Regions from separate parts of the Homo sapiens genome. Here regions 1, 2, 3 and 4 are each linked to region 5. Evidence: fine-mapped expression QTL. A gene starts in region 5. Each other region holds a variant in brackets. All regions are shown on one strand. Distances are from middle to middle.

Region 1 (4,885 bases), 37 kb before region 5:
GCTCAGACATTGATAACAGGTTAAGAAATTTGTACGTGCATACTGTTTTTTTTTTTTGAGATGGAATCTCGCTCTGTCACCAGGCTGGAGTGCAGTGACGCGATCTCAGTTCACTGCAACCTCTGCTTCCCAGGCTCAAGAGATTCAGTCTCCCGAGCAGCTGGGACTACAGGCATGGGCCACCACACCCCGCTCATTTTTGTATTTTTAGTAGAGATGAGGTTTCACCATGTTGGCCAGGATGGTCTTGATCTCCTGACCTCGTGATCCACCTGCCTCCCAAAGTGCTGGGATTACAGGCATGAGCCACCATGCCTGGCCATGTATACACATCTTAATACAAATATTTTCAGAGATAACCATTGCGTGATAGCTATTTTTTTTCTTGAAATGATACCCTCCTTCACCCTTTTCTGTCAGAACTGAAAGCTACATAGCTTCTTCTATTTCTTCATGCACTTGTTAGAAGCAATATGCATTAACCTATTTTCCGATGCTGTTGATTCTCTAATCTGTTAATCCATTTGCAGACGCTATTGATTTTCAAACTTAAGTTATGAATACCTGCTATAATTCTGTGGTTAATAACCAGCTTTGGAAAGAAAATGTGCTTCTATCAAAGGGTACAATTTTTCTATGACTAAAACATATAAATTCATCCATGAGCAATTGCAAGTGTCCAAACATTTACCCTTTCTGAACAACATTAACTTCGCCAGGGCAAAACAAAGTCACACATGTAACATATTCCCCAAGTTGCCCCACTCCCACCACAGTGCATATGTGCACACACACACACACACACACACACACACACATCCAAAGCCCAGATTTCATGTAAAAAAAATCTCCCCTTAAGTAATTATTTTTCCTACTGCATATTTTTAATCTCGTTGTCTTTGTATATGAATTGTCTTTCCTCTTATATTCCTTTTACAGAATTTGAGAAATGAAACACTGAGGAATGATAAAGATTATACATGTATTCAAACAATATTAAAGACATATAGGTCAAAACCTTTTCTGATATCTAAATGCTATGAGATCATCCCTGTATTAAGATCTGAGTCATGATTAGTCATAATATACAGGTCAATATGTATATTCTCATCCAATTATCTTTAGAAGTTTCTACATTATATAACTCAGCCCTACATGCCTCAATGATTAAAAAACTTTCCTTTATATTAGATGGACATGTCCACAAATATCCTAATGCAAATAGAATAAACCTTGTATTATCAGAAGAACATGTCTACAATGTTATCTTACATATTAATATCTTGGACAGATACTTCTTTTATCTTCCCAGTTAAAAGGAAAGGCACTAAGTATGCTTTAAGCACCTTCAGAGATGCAAAAGATCTTTCCAAACAGGTAGATTCTTGGTTTGTGGCTTTTCTGTAGTAATGCTCAACATTTACTCTGGCGGCTATCATAAGGAGGAGGCTAAAAGTTATTTTCGATTTTAGTATCCAAACAGGCCAGTTACTATTCCTTTGTCCTGTATCCTTCTGTGGGTAAAACACAAGCTAGAATTTGGTTTATCTTCCCTTTCTATGCTGGAGCTTTTTAGGAGAACTAATGCTCTCAGAATAAGTGAACCCCTGCTCAAGAAACAGAGTTACCTATTAATGTGTCTCCTTATGAAAAAGGAAAAACCTTTGCAATTGTCCTACTGCTGTAAAGGATGAAACCAAATGTCTTTTTGTTCTTCATCCAATTAGCTTAAAAAATTAGCCTAGAACAAAGTGGTAGAAATTTAGAAAGCATATTTCAGCAAGGACTATGGATTTATAAAGAAATGTGGATTCAGATAAAATATACTTCAGAGAGAAAATTAGGATAAACATTTTATGACACAA[G/C]AGGAACTAGAAAAAGCACAGGAATTTAAGGAAGAACATATTTTAATGGTTGAAACCTGTCTTTATGAGGCGATTATGACAGCAAAAAATATTATAATGAATAACAATGCATAGTCTACGCTTTGTAATATTTCATACAATAATTCCTTTATCATTTACATCTCTTAATGCTAGAAAAGCATTCTGAAGATGCCAAGCGTAAGTTGCAACTGAGTAAAAAAAAAAAAGCAAAATTTACTCAATTTCCAGAAGAGGTGCAGAACAGAGAATGAAGGTCCTTAAAATATAAACCGCTAGTGTGCTAAAATGATGTCCATTTGCAGGATCAGTGACAAAATATTTAAGCCCATAAAGAAAAGAGTTATACCTGCTGTATGAAGGTATTCATAGAGAAATATGAGTCATAAGCCAATTATTTATAAATGTCTTTCAAAATATTTGGTGCACATGAAATGCAGTATACTGATGGTCCTGGAGACTGTTGCAGTTGAATAGGGCAGCTACTGGGATGATGGTGTTTCCCCCGGATGAGGATGACAGGAATGCAGGGCCTAGGATTTGTTGAGCATGTACACTCTTCTTCTGAATTGGCCACCCAGAAACCAATTATTGAATCAGAACAACACAAATTGGTTTGTGCTTGAGCCAGGTCTGTAGAAACGGAAATCAATTCAGTTGTGGAAATGATGAATTTTAAAAGCTGCTGGGTTTTTTTTTGTGCAAGGTAGAGATTTTCATAACATCTCAATAATCCTTTTGAAATGTGCAGTTGCTTAGTGCAAAAAAAGAAATAGTGCCACCATTTCTTCAACTAAAAGATAAGGTGTGCTTTGTAAAAGTAAAGCATATCCAATTTTCATCCTGTTGGTCGGTATTACCAAGGGTCATGATGTAGCTGGCGCACAAATGTGAAGAATCATTTACTACCTGTAGAGTGGCAGTATATCTTAGATATCATACTTTTTATTAATCAGTTCAGTTTCTCTAGCTGCAGAGAGAAGTTCTCTAACGGACTTCACCAATAGGGCAAAACACATTCCCATTCCAGAAAGGCACATAAGAAGGGTGCTTCAAGACAAGCACACACCAGGCAAGGAACGGTAGCTGAAGTGCATCTGCCCTGGACCAGCATTTCCACACCCTTCAGACCAAGTTCCATTTAAAGGTGTATGTACTACTTTCAAAAGGACCATTGGGTTATTTTCTTGTGACCCCCTGAGTAAAACCACACATTAAAGCTCCACCGTCTTACACTTTGCTACTTCTTACATACCTGTCTTCTTACTTGTTCCTATTGTTTACAAATCTGCCCAAAGATATAATTTTTATGATATTAAGAGCTGAATTTTGCTTAAGAAAATCTACATATCTTTTGTGATTCTTCTAAATCTAGTAAATCAAGTAATCAACAGTTTATTCTCTGCTTGTAAAAAAGGGTAGTAATTTTTCCACATAAAAATCAAATATATAAGCAAAACTAATATATTTGTTGACAAAGTTGCTCCAGCAAGCCTTGAATTTTTCATTATAATTTAGCTATAAATAGACCCAAGGAATCTGACATCCAAGGATCATTAAGCAATCATAAAAATGTATCACATAATTTTAATTCTGAATACTTACTTACAAAACATGTTTATAACTTCTGCATTTCCTTTTATTAAGCATGCTTTCCCATTAGGACAAGTTTTTTTGTTATTTTGTTTTACTTTTCAGCGGATGATCTATTACATAGTCATACAAATACCTTTGTTTAGTCATAATTTGTCAGTAGGCTACTGACAGGTATTGAAGGTAATATTTAACTTTTTATAATGTGAACATTTTAGGCTAGCATTTTGAAGCCATTCTGTCCAAATAGTTTGGATGCAGAATTATTGTCTTTTTGGTGACTAAATAGTGGTAGAAGTGATTAGAACCAAAAATTAGGTTGCCTTTTCAAACACAAGCTCTCCATCTCACAAAAGGAAATTATTGGTCCCCAAATTCCACTTTCACTGATTTATGCTTTGGTCACAAACAATTAAAATGTATGATTTCATGGAACATCTCTAGAAGATAGAATGGATGCTGATGAATCCAGGCTATTGGAAAATCATGAAATTGTATTAGGGATCATGTGAGATAAAGAATCTTTCTTTAGCATGGTACTGGCACACAGTAAACAACTAAATAAGTTATTATAACACACATACTGCTTTTATTTACATTGCCTTGAGGTGGGCTGAAGAAAAATAGGGAGAAAGTAAAAAATTCTCCCCCACAGGCAACACCAATGTTACCTGTGATAACTAAAAAAAGGTTTTCCTTTAGGAAAGGTCAGGCATTCATTCATCTTTAAGAGTGCATGGACACTAATATCTAAAGCATAGAGGCCTAAACTCTTGTACACCACTCTGAGTACTTGGTTCTACTATGTTGAACACTATTTTCCCCTATTTCCTGATACTATTATATTCAAATTTTTGTTCAGGACTTTTCTGGATTTGGAAAATGCACGGCCAGCATGTCTACATGCAGCAATCCTGGTCTTATGAAACCATTTCCTAGTCAATTATTTTTAAGTATCAGATAATATATAACTAGCTATATAATTGAGAAATGAACCAGTCAATTTTGGACAACTTTGGCACAAGTGCTTTATTTGTGCTATTGTTACAATGGTCACAAGTACATCTTTTATCTCATTTCTCCCAGAATTAAAGATATACTTTAGTGATCTGCGTGATAATATTTATAGGTTTATTTACCTATATTTAAAAATGATCAGTGGCTAGACATGTCTAGAAATATATATGGCCTAATATGTAACTTCTCTTTGATAAAGTGAAAACAAGTAATATATAAGCTAATATTATTGAAGCAATATTTTTTGGTACATACTTACTTATTTTATTGTTTTCGATCTGCATGCACAATATGAAATCATAAAAGCAACAAACATCACCACACCAACACTGAGTAAGATCATTTCTATCAGGCCAAGGAGGTTTATTTTTCCAGTTACTTGACTTCTGAAC
Region 2 (4,885 bases), 500 kb after region 5:
CACCTTTCCTCTCTGGAAAGCCTTTCTACAGAGCTAAATAAACCTTGGAGGGGAAAAAAATTCCTTAGACATGGAAAATGTTAGAAAACTAAATTCATAGATAGCAAAGTCTCTTCTACATTATAAGTTTCCATACAACACAAAGCTTACACCCAGTAAGGGTTAAATAGTAGGTTCAGAAATACATGAAAACAACTGACAGATTTATAACCAAAGTAATATCTGAGAGGCAAGCTACCTCCACCTCCACCCCCCAAGATCAACAATGAAGTCCCAATATTGACACTCACCTCCCCTACCTAGTATCTATTTTATTTTTTCTTCCCCATTTGACATTATGAGGACTTATCTTTATGTATATATTGTATTTCCCCAAGTAGACTGTAAATTCTCTTAAGGATCTGGTAAGGCTAATGCGTAATTTGACAGGAAAAGCATGGAACACATCTTACAAATGCTACTAGTGATCATCCTCACCACATAGGAACAAGCAAGACATAAAGAACAGTCTGCTGGTGAGCCTCTGAGCAGCCTGCTGGCTCCTGAAAGCTGAGGTTTACCAGAGTCACATCATCCTGTGTGAAATATATAGTTGTGAGTATATATTAAATGCCACATTGCAATAGTGTATGCATTTTAAGAAAGCAGCAAAATAACATGTGAAACAGCAAGGCAGCAATACTGTTAAAAACAAAGTTCCCAGAATATTCAAATATGAAAATCACATTTCACTCTACCACTTATTTACCAAGAATCATGATTTTGATCATGCAACAAGAATATGGTCCCCAAAATTAGTTTACTTTTTAGAAATGTGTTAGGAATAATGTAGTAGGTTTTCATTACTCTAAACCAGCAAGATATATATTGGGCTAAAATTCACTCAAAATACCCAAGGCACAAAGAATATGTACCAATTTTTCCCTTTAAAAGAAAACTAGTCAAAATTAATGTTCAACAATTTATCCATTAATTTAACCAACAATTATGAAACAGCTACTATGTGCCATCCCATCAGATGATAAGTCTGACAAGATTCATGCTCTGATGGGGCCAATGCCATAGAGAAAGGCAACAGACAATAAAAAATAAAAGTACAAGATGATTTCAATATGGTATTAGTAGGAAGGGAGACGAAGGAAGACTAATTTAGACTGGATGATCAGGAAAAATGTCAATAAAGAAGAGGCAAAGAAAAGCTTTATTCTTTCACATTACGACTTGAGTAACACCATGGGTTCAATATGACATGTAAGAAACTGGTGCTTTTAGTGTTACCATGATAGTCACATAAATTATGAGGGACTGGAGAATGTAAAATTACAATTATTTTGCACTTTCAAAAGTGATATATAAGATACTGATGAAGATAATGGGAAATGGGGTGCTGCTATAACAAACACCTAAAAATGCAGAAATGGGCAATGGGCAGAGGCTAAAAGAATTTTGAGAAGCATAATAGAAAAAGTCTAGGTGGTCTTGACATACTGTTAATAGAAATACGATGTTAATGTCTCTCCCAGTGTGGGCTCAGAACGAAGTGAGAAGCATGGTAGATGACACATTATCACCTTAGAAAATATGTGAATTATCATGAACATACTATTGCTAGACGCATGGAGCTTAAATTTGCTGCTGATGAGGACTTGGATGGGAAGAAAGGTGAAACATGTTATCAAAAACTAGAGGAAGGGGATCCTTGCTATATACAGGCAGAAAGCTTAGCTGAATTAAGTCCAGCAGTTACGTGGAAAGCAGACCTTGTAAGCTATGAACCTGGACATTAAGATGAAGAGATTTCCAAGCAAAGTATTAAAGATGTGGCCGGTTCTTTGTTTTTGTTTTTTCTTGCTGGTTACAGTAAAACGGGACAGGAAAAAGGTGAAGTAAAAGAATATGAAATGAAATAATGCTGTCAGACCACCATAATTCCAGAGGCAAGAAACAGGCTGATAAAAGTAATCAGCAGCATACAGGTGCTACACCCTTCATTAGAAAAGAAGGATGACTCCCAAGAGTGGAGAAGTTCAGTACCCACAGGGTGGAGTAAAGAGTCACAGAGAACTATCCCCAGTCCTTGAAACCTAAAGGAGTTTTGAAAGTGCTCAAAACTAGAGACTCCTTTTTTCTTTCCATTTAATGATAACCTATGCCTGACCCACCATATTCTGGGAGCAGATAACTTGTTTGCTAGTTTCACAGGTCCACAAACAGACAGGAATTTTGTCCCAGTATGGATTACACCCAGAATCTCACCTATTCCTGAGTTAGATCAAGAGCCCTGGTTGAGATTTTGCAGTCAGTTGTGGCTGTATTGGGTTGAGACTTTTGGAGATGTTGGGAGAGGGTGAATGCATTTTGCATGCAGGATGCACATGAGCCTTTGGGAGCCAGAGGGCGGACTGTGGAAGGCAAAATAATGGTCCCCAAAGATAAATATGTCCCAATCCCTGAAACCTGTGAATATGTCACCTCACAGGGCAAAAGGAATTTTGCAGATGTGATCTTGAGATGGGACTATTAACTTGGATTATGTGGGTGGGCCCAATGTAATTACAAGGGTCCTTCCAAGTGAAAAAGGGAGGCAGGAGAGTGATGCCACATGAGAAAGACTCCACCAGCTATTGCTGGCTTTGAGATGGAGAAGGCACCATGAGCCAATGAAAGCAGGCAGCCTCTGTAGAGCTGAAAAAGGCAAGGGAATGGATTCTCCTCTAGAATCTCCAGAAGAAAAGAAGCCCTATCAACAACCTGACTTTAGCCCAGTGGAAACCCTTTTTGGACTTCTAACCTCCACAACTGTATGACAATAAATTTTGTGTTGTCACTACGTTTATGGTAATGAACATTCATTAAAAAAAA[T/C]TTTTTGCCCTATTTCCGTTACGGCTTTTAATTGGCACTAACAAGTTATGACAGAAACCAGTCTGAGCACTAAAAGATTAGGTAGAGCTGACCTTAGTTCGTAAGACTCAAATGGAGTCTGGGATCTGAACTTCACTGTGTCATACTCTGGGGAGTCATACATTGGTTAACTGCATGCCAGAACATGTGACCAAGAAATCTGCAACAAACACACTCAAATACACTCAGGTCTTCCTGTGTGAATTTGTTGTACACAGAATTTTCCAAGGCAGTTAGACATGTGTAACAAAATAAAAATTGATTGTGGTTGAATACACAATTTCTGTTTAAAAAATTACAGCAGTCTTTTTCAGGTTTAAATAACATCTATTAAATTCTGTAAGATAGGCATGTTTCCTATCACTGAGACATTCAACAACAGTCATACTTTTTATGCATTAGAAATTGGGGCCAAAGGGTGCGGTGGCTCACCCCTGTAATCCCAGCACTTTGGGAGGCCGCGGCAGGCGGATCACGAGGTCAGGAGATCGACACCACTCGGGCTAACACGGTGAAACCCCGTCTCTACTACAAATACAAAAAAATTAGCCGGGCGTGGTGGCAGGCACCTGTAGTCCCAGCTACTTGAGAGGCTGAGGCAGGAGAATGGCGTGAACCCGGGAGGCGGAGCTTGCAGTGAGCGGAGACTGCGCCACTGCACTCCAGCCTGGGCGACAGAGCAAGACTCCGTCAAAAAAAAGGAAAAAAAAAAAAAAAGAAATTGGGGCCAAAAATAAAAATTAGAAAATGAGATCTACCTTTACAAAAAAAAAAAAAAAAAAAAAATTGCAGGGCAAAGTGCCATAATTGCAACATAGCAGATCCTCCTCCAATGAATATCCATTATCATTTTCTCAACTTTAATTTATCAAATACAATGACTGTGAAAAGCTCTTATAAATATGAAAAAAAATCTTAAACCAAACAATTTGATTTTAGATGCCATGTGTTCACTGTGGTCATCACATAATTTACTATTCCTTTTTTGTTTACATAATTTGGCTGGACAGTTATTTGCTCTCATTGATATTGAAAACAGCAGAGCACAAAGTTTATATTCCAGCAAGATAATAATTTTACATAATTAAGAAGCCATTTTACACATAATAAAATAGAAGGGTTGTTAGGTATTCAAAGAAAACCTACAAAAATTCTGCCTTTAAAGTGCCCACAGCAGTAGGAAAATAGGCTGGGCAGAAGGATAAACAATACCAGAAATCAAGTGCAAATATGCTTTAACATGTGCCAACAGTTTCTGTTTGGAGAAGGGTGCCCTAAGGAAAAAGTATAAGGCTAGAGGGAAGCCAAGTCTAAAAGATTTTATTCTGCAGGAAACGGAAAAGTCAACAAAGGTTTCTGAGCAAGGAAGCAGCATGATATCTGCAGTAGAAAGAACAGGCTAGAGGGAAAGACAAGATGCAAGAGAGCCTATTGGAATTAGGCTGCCAGAGGCAGAGAAGGACTTGAACTATGAATATGAAAATGAAAAACAGAAGGTACAGAAAAAAATCAGCAATTCCAAAACCTGTGGCTTCTTACTAAAGTAACTAATACAAGGTATGCCATGAGAAAGAAGCACACAACCCATACTGAAATACCGGATCCGTTTATTCAAGGAAATGGGCTTTTTGACATCTAAGATCCTAAACCAATTCTAAGAAAGTCAAAGCAATGAAAAATCAAAAGCCCTGCATAGCCAACATTTCTCAACTAGGGGAAGTCACAGGGCAAGTTCAAAAGGAGTGAAGATTAATGATGCAGCATCCCAAAGGGCTGCCTGGTGGCAGCAATAGAAAAATATCCACCAAACAGAAGAAATCCAATCCCTCAGCTCATTTTCCCCCAAACCTGGAATATTTAAACCAAGCTGAAGAAGGAGACAAGGGTGTGGAATTTTGTATATGAGGGGGAGTGGAGCGGAAGGAAGGACAGTGAGGTGGAATAAATGAGAATACTGCTCAAAGCTTTGGAACAGAAAATAAAT
Region 3 (4,885 bases), 160 kb after region 5:
CTGAGGCAGGAGAATCGCTTGAAAGTGGGAGGTGGAGGTTGAAGTGAGCCTAGGTTGTGCCACTGCACTCCAGCCTGCATGACAGAGCAAGACTCCGTCTCAAAAAACAAACAAACAAACAAACAAAAAAACAAAAAAGAAAAAGAAAGAAAAAAGAAAAAGAAAATAAGAAAGAAAAACAGAAAGAAATGAAACAGTATATTTGTTTGGTTTGTAAAGCTATGCTGACAAGATATATAATTTTTTCTCCTTAGGGATAAAACTGTGTAGTGGTTGTTTTATGGCATCATTCCTCCTAAACAGCACTTTAATAGTGGAAGGAGCCAATAGCATGATGCTAGTGAAAGTGACCAGAGCATATTTCACTGAACTTGCAGTTCTCTTTCATATCCATTTAACAGAGAAATGGGGTTTTAAAAATCTATCCTGTGTTGATGCAGGAAAATCAGGTTGAGACTTGATATGGCCATTTGTTGACAAAAAAGCCAAACTCCGTAAAATACTTGAAGAGATTTATTTTGAGCCAAATGTGAGGGCCATGACCCATGGCACAGCCTCAGGAGGTCCTGAGAACATATGCCCAAGGTAGTTAAGTTATTGCCTGATTTTATACATTCTATGGGGATTAAAGTTACAGGCAGATATCAGTCAATACATGCAAGGTCCAGAAAGGCAGGACAATTTGAAGCGGGACCTTCCAGTCATAGGTGGATTCAAACATTTTCTGATTGGTTGAAAAGAATTAAGTTATTTTCTGATTGGTTGAAAGAATTAAGTTATTGTCTAAAGGCCTAGAATCAGTAGAAAGGAGTCTCTAGGTTAAGAGTCTGTGGAGACCAAGGTTCTTATTATGTAGATGAAGCCTCATAGGTGGCACCCTTAGAGGCAATAGATGGCAAATATTTCCTATGTAGACCTTTAAAAAGTGCTAGACTTTCAGCTAATCTCACCAGGATCAGAAAAGGCCTTGAAAAGGGAAGGGGCTTCTCTACACAATGTAAACTTCCCCCACAAAAGACAGCTTTTATTTTCTTGTTATTTTCTTTTATTCTTTTATATATGCCAAAAAAATATATTTGGGGGTAAAATAATTTCTTTCAGGGCCTGCTCTATACTGGAGTCAGTTTGGAATTTGGAATCTTATTGCTATAAAGATTCTGTTTTATCAGTCCTAAGATCTCTGTTTCAATGTTAATGCGGGTGAGTTATGCCTGAATTCCAAAGGGAGGAGGGCCTAATGAGGCATGTCTGACCCCACCCTTCCTATCACAGCCTGACCTAGTTTTTCAGGTTTACTTTGGAATTCTGTTGGCCAAGAGGGATTTCTGTTGGTTGCGGGGCTTAGAATTCTGTTGCTTGGGGGACTTAGAATTTTGTTTTTGGTTTACACATTGAATATGTGGACCAATGACCATCTGATCAGTTTACTTTTAACAATAAAAGCTGATTGTGAAGAAAGATAGAATAAGTTATTTTCTTTTTTTACCCTTACCAGTGTCTCTTTAACAATAAGTGACATATCCTTATTTTTTATACAAAGAACAGATTTTTGATAAAATGGTAGAAAAAAACTGTAGTCAATTCAAAATAATAATAAGCTGAGTTGTATCAGAAAAGCAGCAAGTTCTTATTGAACATACTTCACTGGTAGTGTCAGAGGCATTTGAACCAGAGCAACTTCATCTTAAATAGGAGCTGAGGAAAATGAGAATGAGACCCACTAGGCTTCATTCCCAGACAGTTAAGGCATTCTAAGTTACAGGGTGAGATAAGGAGGTCGGCACAAGATGCAGGTCATAACGACCTTGCTGATAAACAGGCTGCAGTAAGAAGCTGGCCCAAACCCACCCAAACCAAGATGGCCATGAGAGTGACCTCTGCTTGTCCTCACCGCTATACTCCCACCAGCACCATGACAGTTTACAAATGCCATGGCAATGTCAGGAAGTTACCCTATATGCTCTAACAAGGGGAGGCATGAATAATCCACCCCTTGTTTAGCATATCATCAAGAAACCACAAAAATGAACAACCAGCAGCCCTCGGGGCTGCTCTGTATATGGAGTAGCCATTCTTTTATTCCTTCACTTTCTGAATAAACTTGCTTTCATTTTGCCCTATGGACTCGTCCTGAATTCTTTCTTGTGTGAGATCCAAGAACCCTCTCTTGGGATCTGGATTGGGACCCCTTTCCTGTAACAGTAACAGCCTGACATGGCACAAAATGCGCTTGTATTTGACTCTTATTCTGATACTTATTGTATTTACTGGTTTACTCGTTTCTAAAACTCTGAGTTTTAGATTCCTCACATGTAAAATGGAGAAAATATAGTGTCTATCTCATGGTTGTGAGGATTATGTGTGATATTGCATGTGCAGTT[T/C]TGTAAATTGTAATAATATGCACTAGGAGGGTTATGAGCTAAAAAAGATATCAGTTTTAGAGGCTGACAACAAGGTTGAGTTCAGACTTCTCCATTTGCCTGGGCTATTACCACAGTCAATTTAGTTATTCTGAAACTCAACATCTTAATTTTTTAAAAAATGATTTGTCATAAAGCTATTTTGATTATTTGTTTAAATAAATTGCAGACTATAGTATTTACTCAGTAAACTTCTATTTCCTTCTTTGCTGGTAACCTCCAAATGTTATCCCAACAGGACTAAGACAATAATTCCTTGCTTTGCATAAAAAACTCTCACCTCTGTCCTACTGATTTGTTCCAAAGGCATATGCAATCAACAATGCCTACAGGGATGTTCAAAAATATTATGTGGATCCAAATGTTTACCATTCTTTATATGATTACGAGGCAGTAACCCGATGACAAAAAAACATTATATATTAATTTTTTGAAACAATACAATTTTAGAATAATGAATTTATTTCCATTTTTACTCTAATTTTTTTTTTTTTTTTTTTTTGAGACAGGGTCTGGCTCTGTCACCTAGGCTGAAATGTAGTGGTGCAATCTCTGCCCACTGCAACCTCTGCCTCCCAAGCTCAAGCAATTCTCCCACCTCAGCCTCCCAAGTAGCTGGGACTACAGACATGTACTACATCCCTGACTAATTTTTTTGTAGAGAAAAATTTTGCCATGTTGCCCAGGCTGGTCTCAGACTCCTGGGCTCAAGTGATCTACCCACCTCGGCCTCCCTAAGTGCTGGGATTATAGGCGTTAGCCACCATGCCCGGTCTACTCTAATTTTTACTTGGCTTTTTTTTTCTAGAAAAATTCATGGCGATGATTAAAAAAAGAAGAAGATACCAGATTAAATCAGCTTAATTTTTATTTTACCTTGGTATAATATGTAGACCTTTTGCAAACTTAGTATGACTACAGCAAAGTATTATTATCCTCCTTGATATCATATTCAGAAGTCAGTGACATATTTCAAAATATGCTAATTTCTTCACATAATATTTTATAGTTTTTGCAAAGGAGAACTCTTCTGGGCATCATCCAGCCATGAAAAACTTTAGTTCTATTTACCTCAATATAGTTCAAAAAGATGTTTGGTGGAATTATTAGCTAAAAGAATAAGATTAAAATTATCCCAGTAAATTACTCTATTAGAAAATAGAATATGTGATTCCAAATAATACATACTTATTCTCACCAAAATATTGTTCTAGGAGGACCAACGACAACTTTATGCAATGGCAAATACCCTGGAAGATGGTGGCATGACACCTCAACTGGCTGAGGTAATAAAACGGCTGTGGAGAGATCCAGGAATTCAGGCCTGCTTTGAAAGGGCATCTGAATATCAGCTCAATGACTCAGCAGCTTAGTAAGTGAATTCACTTTAAGGGGAATTGGAGGTAAAACATTTAAAATTAAGAATTATAATTCTGCATACTTTGCATTTGTAAATTCAAATGAGGAAAATAAATGGTGTTACATTTTATTAGAGTAAAATAAAAAGCAATTAAAGAGAAATGAAAATGAACAAGGTGACATAATGAGATTTAAGAAAATATAACCAGGGGAGCATTTTAAATAACTAAGTTTGAAACTGCCTGAGAAGATTCTATGGTGCAAATATCTTCTCTTGATTAAAAAGTGTTAACCTTTATGCATAGCCTTTCACACTAACACAGACTGGTGACATGCACACTGAGGTTTTGGGCTATTCATTTCATCTCTATCCATATTAGTGAAATCATCTCCTAGATTAATTTCATTAATGACACATGCCTTGGCTCATTGGGTTGATGACCATGATACAAAATTCTAGAAGAAATTAATGAAATGATTTCCAAAATACTTGTATACTAGGAGATTCTTTTGGAGTCTCAAAAAATTCTATAAATTTCACTGCTTGTATCATCCATTTAGCATTAATTAACCATAAGGAAATTAGGGGCTTGTGACACTATTTATAATTTCATTATCAAAGTGATTTAAAATTTTCCTTTAGTGCTGGGCACAGTGGCTCACGCCTGTAATCCCAGCACTTTGGGAGGCCATGGCAGGCAGACAGCTTGAAGTAAGGAATTTGAGACCAGCCTGGGTTACATGGCAAAGCCAAGTTGCTACAAAAAAATACAAAATTAGCCAGGTGTGGTGGCATGTGCCTGTAGTCCCAGCTACTTGGGAAGCTGAGACAGAAGGATTGCTTGAGCGCAGGAGGTCAAGGCTGCAGTAGGCAGAGACTGCACCACTGTACTCCAGTTGGGGCAAAAGAGCAAGACCCTGTCACCAAATTAACCCCAAAAAACAATTATTTTAGCAAGTGGTTCCTAACATAGCCCCTTACTATATGCCTGCAAGATGTGTGCATATGTAAATACAATCTAATTACTCATTTTCTATTTCTGTTCATGCATATGTGTGAAAAAGTGTAAATATAGTTCTTTTGATGAACTCCCCCTCTCCCCGCC
Region 4 (4,885 bases), 31 kb before region 5:
CAATTTATTTGCCCAATCGAATGTCAAGGTTTTAGTTAGTTAGATTTGTGAGTTACTTGAAATGGTTTTTAAAAAATCAAAAATCAGCAACAAAATATAAGATCTCAGATAATTCCTGGTCAAATATATATTCAGTTAGAATCCATGTGTCATTGTTTAAACTAAAACATAACTACTAAAATCCTAGAATTTCATTTACTTTTTGAAAAGGAAAATACAAAAATAAAGATGATTAAAACTGTTGCGCTACAACAATTTTATAGATTTTGACAATAAGTATAGTCAAACTCACATATACTCTTTGACTTTTGCATAATATACAATAACTCCTCATCTAAACATAAATATTTATATAAAATTATTTTAAGCCAATTAGAATCACTTCATAAACCATAGGAAGAAATCGACCTAAGTTTCAGTAACTTTCAAGAATGTGATTCAATAAATATGATTATTTATTGAATAAATAATCATCGACAAGATTATTTTTATTTCAATTGTATTTTTAAAAATATCAACCAAATCAGATCAATAAGGTGTTTTCTTACAGGTTCAATATCCAAGTATGTCCTATGTTCTTCTTCATTTGGGTTTAATCCATCAATAGGTTCTGAAACATCAGGACTTGCATACAGAAAATGAGGAAGTGAAATGTACACAGGTCTCCCTGAAGACAAGTTTTAAGAGTCAATTGGAATTAATAACTTCCTTCATTTCACATATAACTCAAAAAATATTTCCACAAAACTAAAGCTTCTTGCATTAAAAAATACATGGTTTTTAACATGGGTGGGGAAGAATTATGTCAGTTGATTTCTACTATAAACTCCTTCAGTATTAATTTTCAATATGTAAAGCTTTCAGGCAGTAATATGTCTATGGACTAAGAATTTATTTAACACTAGTTTTTTCTTTCTTCTTCCACACCCACGTTAGTATGATAAATATGTACAGGATAAGCTAGTCTCCAAATTTTATGTTTAACTCTAGCTTTAGATACATACTGAAAATACATTTACCTGTACCATTTTCTAGTGAAAAAAGTTAGGACAGATGAATAACAGGATGTTTAATGTGTTCTCGGAATTATTTTCATTTCACCCTAAATCTAAAAGCAGCCACAAGGAAATACTGGTGTGGTTTTAACTAAATTTTGTAATACTGAAACACAAGTGGGATCTTCCCAAAATACAAAATCAGCACTAAAATTTTCTGCCACCATTCTTTCTTCTGCCCTAATTACTTTCTTACTTTAATTTTAAATTTTGGTTGCTAAAGGATTATGGTAAAGTTCTCATTTTAAAGAATATCACAAATTATGATATATTTTAAATTTTGGTTGCTAAAGGATTATGGTAAAGTTCTCATCTTAAAGAATATCACAAATTATGGTATGGACTGTGCTACTGAGGTTATTTACTCACCTTCTTTGCATTTGCTGATGTCTAGCACACCATATGATGTACAATTTTTTGAGATAATTTTTTCTGTGCAGAAACAATAGTTGTCTGGGTTTTCAACTGGAGAGGCAAAGGCCTTGGATGGAAGAACAAATCTATACACAGGGATTCCTTTCAGATTAACGTCGGATTCAAATACAGCATAGATTGACCTAAATACAGAGAAAAAAGAGCTGCATTCCAGGAACCTGAACTTACATTCTGGAGATTCATTTTTTCTTATTCTTGTTTTAACTTAGAAACATCATATACTCTTTTAAATTCTTGTTTCATTCTTAGAAAAAAAGTGATTGGGAAATTTTAACACATACTAAAACTCAATAGCCAAGCATGAACTATTCTTGTTTGTGAAGTACCATGTTTATTTATACTCAAGTTACTTCTCACAGGCAATTTATCCAATAGAGTAAATATTTATAGGACTTCCTTCAAATACTTTATTTGTGATCAGTTTAAATGAAATAGTTTCTTTCACGGCTTAATTAATCCTGGAAAGAAAGACCACTCACTGGAGTGTATGCATATACATGCTGGATATATACCTGGTACATTTCCATCGTTTACCAAGTGTCTATCATAGGGTTCAATACACATATTTTTCTTATCCCCAGATACACGTATATGAAGAAATACTGCTGTCTTAAATTGTACAGATAAGAAAAAAATTCAGAGATGTTAAATGCCTACCCACAAGCATACAGTCTTTAGGGACAGAGCTTGGGCTCAAGGGTAGTGGTAAAGGCTCCAGTGCTTGTGTGTTATCTACTGGGCCCCACAAATCTGAGCAGAGCACATTAACACAGTTCTGTTACATTTGCATCATCTTCTCTGTATGTCTTTAGAAAGATTGGGCACGCCCTTCTGGACTTGATCGTTAATAGACTACTAGTTTAGTTTTTAAAAGGCAAAATGGTTCTTGCTTAGATAGAAATGGCAAAAAAAAAAAAAATTTGTACTATTAAAAATTGGAAGATGCAGAAGAACATTTTGCAAAGAGTTAGTTAATAAACATGATGAATTTCCTATGCTGTGTTTAAGTTTCTTGGTCTGCATTTTGTCACCTGGGGTCTGACTCAGACATACTTATACTTCAGTATCTGTCTTACCTGCAAATATCAGAAGAAAAGAACTGCAATACCTGGCTTTTCTCAACAAAAGGTGGAAATGAGGCTGCATCTGTTTAAAAATCGAGTGGCAAATGATTAGATGTAATGTGTGTTCTAGAAAAAAACCTAGAAATCTCTCCTCCAGTGTAGTCCATAGAAATGTAATGCAAACTGCCTAAGTAATTTATCTAGCAGCCACATTTTTAAAAGGTAAAAAGAAATAACCGGCCAGGCATGCTGGCTCATGCCTGCAAGCCCAGCACTTTGGAAGGCCAAGGCGGGTGGATCACCTGAGGTCAGGGGTTTGAGACCAGCCTGGCCTACATGGTGAAACCCCATCTCTACTAAAAATACACAAAATTAGCTGGGTGTGGTGGTAGG[C/T]GCTTGTAATCCCAGCTACTTGGGAGGCAGCTATCCTGAGGCAGGATAGGCCTGCCTCAGCTATCCTGAGATAGGCGCTCGTAATCCCAGCTATCCTGAGGCAGGATAATTGCTTGCACCCAGGAGGCGGATACTGCAGTGAGCCAAGATCATGCCATTGCACTCCAGCCTGGGCGACAAGTGGAAAACTTTGTCTCAAACAAAACAAAACTATATTTAACTTATTAATATCCAAAATATTTTAACATGTAACCATTATAAAATATTTTAAATTCTTAAAGTCTCAAAATCTACTGTGCATTTTATATTTACAGCACATTTCAAATCATACTAGCCAGATTTTGAGTCCTTAACAGTTACATATGGCTGGCGGCTGCTATTGTCAACAACAAATCTACATACTATACATATTTAATGGTACAAAATAAAAGAAACTTAAACATGAAATGTTAAGGCTAACATTGTGTTTGTTTTTTGAAATGCCCTACCCCACCAGTAGAGTGGCACTTTTCTTCCAGTGAAGTTCATTTGGATCTCCTGCCATGTCCACATTTATTTGTAGTGATTTTTTTTCTCATTTGTCCTAATGGCTGATTACTACTTCTAAAAATATTTACTAAAGTTCTCTCACTAAACAGAACTTCAAATGCTTTGAAAGTGTATAAAAAAGTCATTTATTGAATTTACTTTTTGCTACAGCTATGATCCATGGCAAACATTGGATATATGAAGAAATAGTTAACTCCTCCATGTACTTCTCACATGAATATCACTAATACGAGCCGTCATTGAATGAGTTTTAAATGGTAAGTCTCATCTTTGATTATGCATTGTAGGTTCTTTCTCTGGCAAGTGTGTCAACCTTGTGACCTTGTTTTCATTAGTTTACACTCTTGTGACAAGTAAAATATAAGCCCCCATATGGACATTGACAACAACTGCTTTTCCATTTCCTTAATAATTAAAGAAAAATGCATTGAAAAGCTTTTAAGATCATTATCTAAAATATCATTGAAGATTATGTCCTAATTATACCCAGCAACTACCATGGACAATGACTGCAACATAGTTGATATTTGCAGAGCTTTTTTTCTGTCCTCCCAAAAGAAACATTCTAAATGTATACCAATACTTTCATTTTAAGTCTTTTCAAACTTACTGAAGAAGGTAAAGAGGATGCACTTCTAAATTACGATGAAAACACATTAGAACCTTACTGTTTTATTACTTTCTTTTCGCTAGTGCCATAAGCAAGAATCTCTCTCACAGGGATCATCCCCTGCTCTGTCCAAATTCCCTCTTTTCCTAGTTTGTATCAGCCCTATTTTCCCCATAGATATTTTTAACATCATGCCTGATGCTCATGCATTTCTATTATTGTCAATGAATCTTCTTTTTAAAGATTTTTCTCCTTAAAGAATCCTTTACTAGGATTAACACAGTATATTTATCTCTGCATCTAAGGACTAAGTATTCCGCTTATACAACTACTAGCATTGGTAGTATTGAGGACTTGAAAATTTATTTCCAGAAATGCTTTACTTAGAAAATAGCTTATTTGCCCACTCCTATGGCTCAAAACCCTGCAAAGCCTTGGCCAGGTGTGGTGGCTCAAGCCTGTAATCCCAGCACTTTGGGAGGCCGAGGGGGGCGGATCACAAGGTCAAGAGATCAAGACCATCCTGGCCAACATGGTGAAACCGTCTCTACTAAAAATACAAAAATTAGCTGGGTGTGGTGGCACATGCCTGTAGTCCCAACTACTCATGAGATTGAGGTAGGAGAATCACTTGAACCCCAGGAGGCAGAGGTTGCAGTGAGCCGAGATCGCACCACTGCACTCCAGCCTGGCAACAGAGCCAGACTATGTCTCAAAAAAAAAAAAAAAAAAAAACAAAAGAAAACCCCTGCAAATCCAACAGTGTTTTTGCTGTTTTT
Region 5 (4,885 bases):
TGTACCATAGACACTTGCCAGACCTAAATGACATTTTCTTACTGATCAGTAGATTGCTAAAATTTCTTTTTTTTCTATCTATAAGCCTTCCTCCCACTTTTTCTTAGGATAGAAAACCAGACCACACTCTTGTTTTCCATTCTCTTGATACAGAGAGTTTTCCTTACCTAAAAAATACAGCATCTGTCCATAAAATCTAGTTTTTGGAGGACTTGGGGGAATTCATTCAACGGTTTGCATGAGTATAGAAGTTAGTTTTTAAAATTACTTTTTTCACATTATCATAACTATGTATGTTTATAAAGACACAGTTCCCTATACATGAGTAAAAATGTAGATTCAAATTCAAGGTAGTAGAAATGGGTGTAAAACAATCATTTAACTATGATTATGTTTCATCAACATAAGGTCATTAGGTCATTCTTTATAAAATCATGTTTAGAGATAGAATTCTCCTTTCAAGGTAAATTTTATGCACAATACCAATATAAAAGATAGTTCAAAGAAGAGTTATTTGGTAAAAGAAAGGAGCAGAAACTGTGCCTCTTCCCTTTCCCAGTCACGCTTCACTTGGGCTCTGAGTCATCTCCAAAGAACCCATGGGCTCCACAAGTAATTTTCAAATAACTGGACTATGAGATCTCCAGAATCTTATCTTACTGAAATTATCTCATGTCCATTTCTATCCTATCAGAATATATGATGGTAAAAATGTAAAATAGGAAAAAACTTGATAGACATCTGTAATATAAAATAATTACATACTTCTCAAATATTGCAATTTGTAACTTGTTTTGATGGTAGTCTTTAAAAACTAATGCAATAAATACATTGGACTTTATATATTATACTTGGGATCCTTCTAGAAACAAGTCCCGTCTTTTAAAGACTTATGAACCAGGGATTACTGTAGGTTTGAAATTATTCCCTTAAGTTCATACTGACTTAAAGAGTATTATCTAGACCCATTCTTAATTTTTGAACCTTAGACAAGAATGCTAATGTCTTTTTTCCACACCCCAAATTCTACTATAAACAGACACTATAAAGTTTGTAATGCCAAAAATGCTGGACCTTGAAGCCAAGAAATGTAGATTCAGTTCTGGGTGTTAGTATTGAAGTTTGTCTGTGATACAGTTTTCTCTAAAATGAGTTTACTTACATCAAATAAGGTTGCAAGTATTAAATGAAGTAAAATAATATATATTTATATTGTAGAAAATGTTATTGTTATTTTGAAATATTACTATGAAGTATCATTTCAAACCATAACAGTAAAGTGTTATTTCATATTGGCCAAGTGTTTTAAAAATCTAATAAATGTGTATATTTTACAAAAGTAGAAATGAGTATTTGCAAAATAGTTAGATTATAATGAAATGTGATCATATATGTATGGAATTAAAATATGCAAATGGAAAGACAGCTACTAGTTTAGAACAATGCTACTTGCAAGTTTCAGACACATCTTGGGCCAGTGAACAAAAACATCTTCTGATTAGATGCAAGGATACTTACAGAATTAAGTATCTGATAGTTACAGAATTATCTTAAACTTTCCTTTTCAGGAAACACACAGGAAATACACACACATGCAGGGTTCAAATGTGTTAAAGTAAACAAGGTTAAAAAAATTCCTTAAAAAAATAGGGTGGCAACTATAACTTCCAAGGTAAATTCCAAATTCAGTACACTCTGTGCAAGTACCTCCAGTTGTAATTAATATTCTTCCCAGGCTAACCCATTATCTGATGGTTCTCTGTTTGGTTTATTGTTCTGGTTCACTAATGAGTCTGGGAAATTAAATGATTTCTACTTTAGTTCTTATTTTCTTGTAAATTCCAAAGGACCACTGGACTTTCTATATAACAAACATTTTTAAATATTTCATTTTGGCTTCCTTGTGAACCAATATTTAAAGCAATATTTTTTAGCTTCAACACACATTACTGACTTCAAACCACACAGAAAAAGACTAAAAAGTACATGCAAATCTTTACAAAACAGGTTTCAATATGCTACTTGATGATTTCAGAAACTGGGATGTACTCTAGAGAATTTATGCCATTTACAGTTATTTATAATTTTAGTTAATGTATAATTAATTTGAGGCTTTTACTTAATTCCTCCAAATTGATTTCTCCTTTACTTCAACTTGGCATCATCATCTAATAATTCAGTACTATTTGTAATAAGCTTCCTGAATCGAAAAAAAATTAACTTTATTTTTATTCTACTAATTTACACTAATTAAATTTCAGATTATTTAAAAGTAATATACTTTGCTATTCCCAGTAACAATGACAATATCTTTGTTCATTACAGAAAAGAACTTAAAAAGCACATATCCAAAATACACATTGCATTTGATCATGTAGAGCAAGTCAGGTATACCAAAAGTTGTGCAATTCAGATTGAAAATTAAACAAGCTAATGACTCTGTAAAGTAATAGTTAATAATTGCATATTAGACAACATGTTGACATAAGAGCTGTAAGTCATTTATAACATCTAACCTCATTATATTGGTCTGCAGTATAATGATCTTCATCATTTAAACATCATGTATAAATAGCCTAAGTATAAAATGAAAGTTTTATAATAATCCAAATTGGATTATAAATCACTTTAAATATTAACTTATACATACGACATGAAATGCCATTGGGTATGGTTTAAGCATAAAATATAGGAAGGTTGATAACTTGAAAATAATGCAAACCTGATTTTTAGATAAAGCCTAGTGACTAAGAAAACAGTTACTACCTTTTTTCCTGTCCTCCTATATAACTTCTTAGGAGTATTTATACAGTAGTGTCACCTCCCGTCATCTGGGTGATGGGAAAAATCCCTTAATCTTTTTTATTTAAAGAAAAATCATACAACTTACCTTTAAAATGGCTAAGAAGGATTTTTCAATCAAATGCTCCAACATTTGGACAATTCTTAATAGGATCAAATGGTATTCTGCAGGAAAGTCCTACACTGCAGTCCTCAGTACATAAATGCGTGAGAGTTTAAATATGCAACCACACCCCCTCCCCCCCCCAAAAAAAGAGAAGAGAAAGCACTCTACAGTGTCAGATCCCAGTGTGTGGTTTGTTGCCAGAGGAATTGAAAGAAAAAAAAAATCCCCCACACAGCACATTACTGATATGGCTAATAAGGGTCTATTTTTATGTTCTGGTGAAGACCCATTACCTATATCTGAGATATTCAGCATTTTTTTTTTTTTTGGCTATTTCCCATCCAAGTAAGTCAGAGGCCAGAAAAACAAAAGGAACTGACTTGCTGAGTTTCCCCTAACATATTCTCAGATGCTGAACTGAGACCGCTGGTGGAAATAGTAAATTTGGAAGAATAATCATATTCTCACTTCCCTGTCTTGACTGAGCTTGCGAAACTTATTTTATTAAGTTTAAATTTAATGTACTTTTTTATACAGCGTAATTCTGAAATACTGTGAGACTAATAATTCTGAAAACAATTGGAGACTGTCAATCAGCAAGGATGACAAACTGACTTAAAAAAAGGAAACAGCCTATTGTTCTAGCTGGAAGTTCTTAACTGTTTATCATTTTCTGTTAGTTTTGCAAAAATTTCATGATCACAGCACAGTGCTCCTACAAAAAATAAACTCTTTAAATTTCTTCAACCAAAATATGTCTAAGTAGAATTACTATTGAGGATAATCTTTAGTACTTAAGTCACTTTCAAAAAAAAAAAAAGCATTATGTTGATATTGAATCAAAATAGAAGGCCTTGCACTTTGGGGAAAGAACCTTCACTATCAAGACCCTGTTCTTATAAAGAAATTCTCAGAATCATACAGGAAAACCTTCACAGGGTTAACCTGGCATGTATTTGATAGGAGAGCTGGATAAATGCATTCAAACAACCTTAGAAGTAAAGTAACCTAAGAATACCAGACAGAAATATATTTAGTTCATTAGGTCATATTTAAACCAGTCCTTAAGTTAGAATGCTCGTGCTGTCCTTTTTGGGCATGTGAGGCACACAACGAATCCTTTCATTTGCAAGCAGTGCCATACAACTGAAAAAAAAAACCCCAAACACTCTTTTCTCCTCAAGAATTTTTTTTCCCCAGGGAAGTTTTTACTGACATATTTATTTAAAAAATAAGTCATAAAAATATTGTAAGTCTATTACTTTTTTTTCAAATCTCAGACCACTTAATTAGGATAAAGTAGAAATGACCATGTGCAATCTCTTTATAATTTATGCTTTCAGTTAGAAAAGAATAACTCACAGTGATTTCATGAAACTTAAGAAGGTAATTCCCTTAAATAACTGCGACCTTTTATCTTGGTGGCACGATATAAAATGGTAGTATAAAGACATATTATTTTGGTTAAGAATATCTATTTTGTAGATAGCTGTTTTGTATTTAAGCTAATTTATTTCTCAACCTTAATTCTCACACACTCACACTCTAATATGACAATTCAGAAAAAGATTACCAACGAAAGGGTTCAGATAAGACCTGTTTAAAAGAGCATATTTTAAAGATATTAAAAGACTAAAGTATAATGAAAATATGATCGCAATTAGAGAAAGATTATTTCAGAAAAAATACATGCAAAATAGATGCCTAAGTTGACATTAAACTTACTTGGGTATTATTTAATCAGTAGCCTAATGCCATTCAAATCTGCTGTCACTGGAGAGGAAAATGTCACAGAGTCCCATGAGCAGTCCAAAGAATCAAATTTACATTCCCAGAGACAGCTGTTAAGTGTTCAATCCCATAGACAACAGTTCCTGAGTAGCTTAGCATACAAGATCTGAAAGCACACAGCTGAGTCAAATCTGCAACTGTGGATTTTTAGAAAAATATAGACCTTAAACAATAACATAGCAAAAT

Evidence for each region. PIP is the estimated chance that this variant, and not a neighbour inherited with it, causes the effect.
Region 1: its variant is the best candidate, but not a certain one, in a credible set for the expression of CD36 in whole blood (TOPMed, PIP 0.88).
Region 2: its variant is the best candidate, but not a certain one, in a credible set for the expression of CD36 in monocytes after LPS (Quach 2016, PIP 0.88).
Region 3: its variant is the best candidate, but not a certain one, in a credible set for the expression of CD36 in whole blood (TOPMed, PIP 0.67).
Region 4: its variant is the best candidate, but not a certain one, in a credible set for the expression of CD36 in whole blood (TOPMed, PIP 0.52).

The regions. Positions count from the first base shown.
Region 1 is chr7:80,674,015-80,678,899 of GRCh38, reverse strand. It overlaps CD36 (CD36 molecule (CD36 blood group)), which reads right to left. Exons shown (of 15, transcript NM_001001548.3): 14 at 4,753-4,885; 15 at 1-2,516. The coding sequence ends at 4,753. Among named protein-coding and RNA genes, the nearest start is that of CD36, 38 kb to the right of the region's middle. The variant G/C (reference allele first, on the strand shown) is at 1,866.
Region 2 is chr7:80,138,712-80,143,596 of GRCh38, reverse strand. All of the region lies in intron 1 of GNAI1 (G protein subunit alpha i1), which reads right to left. Among named protein-coding and RNA genes, the nearest start is that of GNAI1, 6.3 kb to the right of the region's middle. The variant T/C (reference allele first, on the strand shown) is at 2,863.
Region 3 is chr7:80,477,748-80,482,632 of GRCh38, reverse strand. It overlaps GNAT3 (G protein subunit alpha transducin 3), which reads left to right. Exons shown (of 8, transcript NM_001102386.3): 4 at 3,635-3,792. Among named protein-coding and RNA genes, the nearest start is that of GNAT3, 32 kb to the left of the region's middle. RefSeq lists an enhancer at 3,566-3,860. The variant T/C (reference allele first, on the strand shown) is at 2,382.
Region 4 is chr7:80,667,704-80,672,588 of GRCh38, reverse strand. It overlaps CD36 (CD36 molecule (CD36 blood group)), which reads right to left. Exons shown (of 15, transcript NM_001001548.3): 9 at 2,567-2,636; 10 at 1,425-1,612; 11 at 549-667. Among named protein-coding and RNA genes, the nearest start is that of CD36, 32 kb to the right of the region's middle. The variant C/T (reference allele first, on the strand shown) is at 2,948.
Region 5 is chr7:80,636,752-80,641,636 of GRCh38, reverse strand. CD36 (CD36 molecule (CD36 blood group)) reads right to left here and starts at 2,995. Exons shown (of 15, transcript NM_001001548.3): 1 at 2,891-2,995.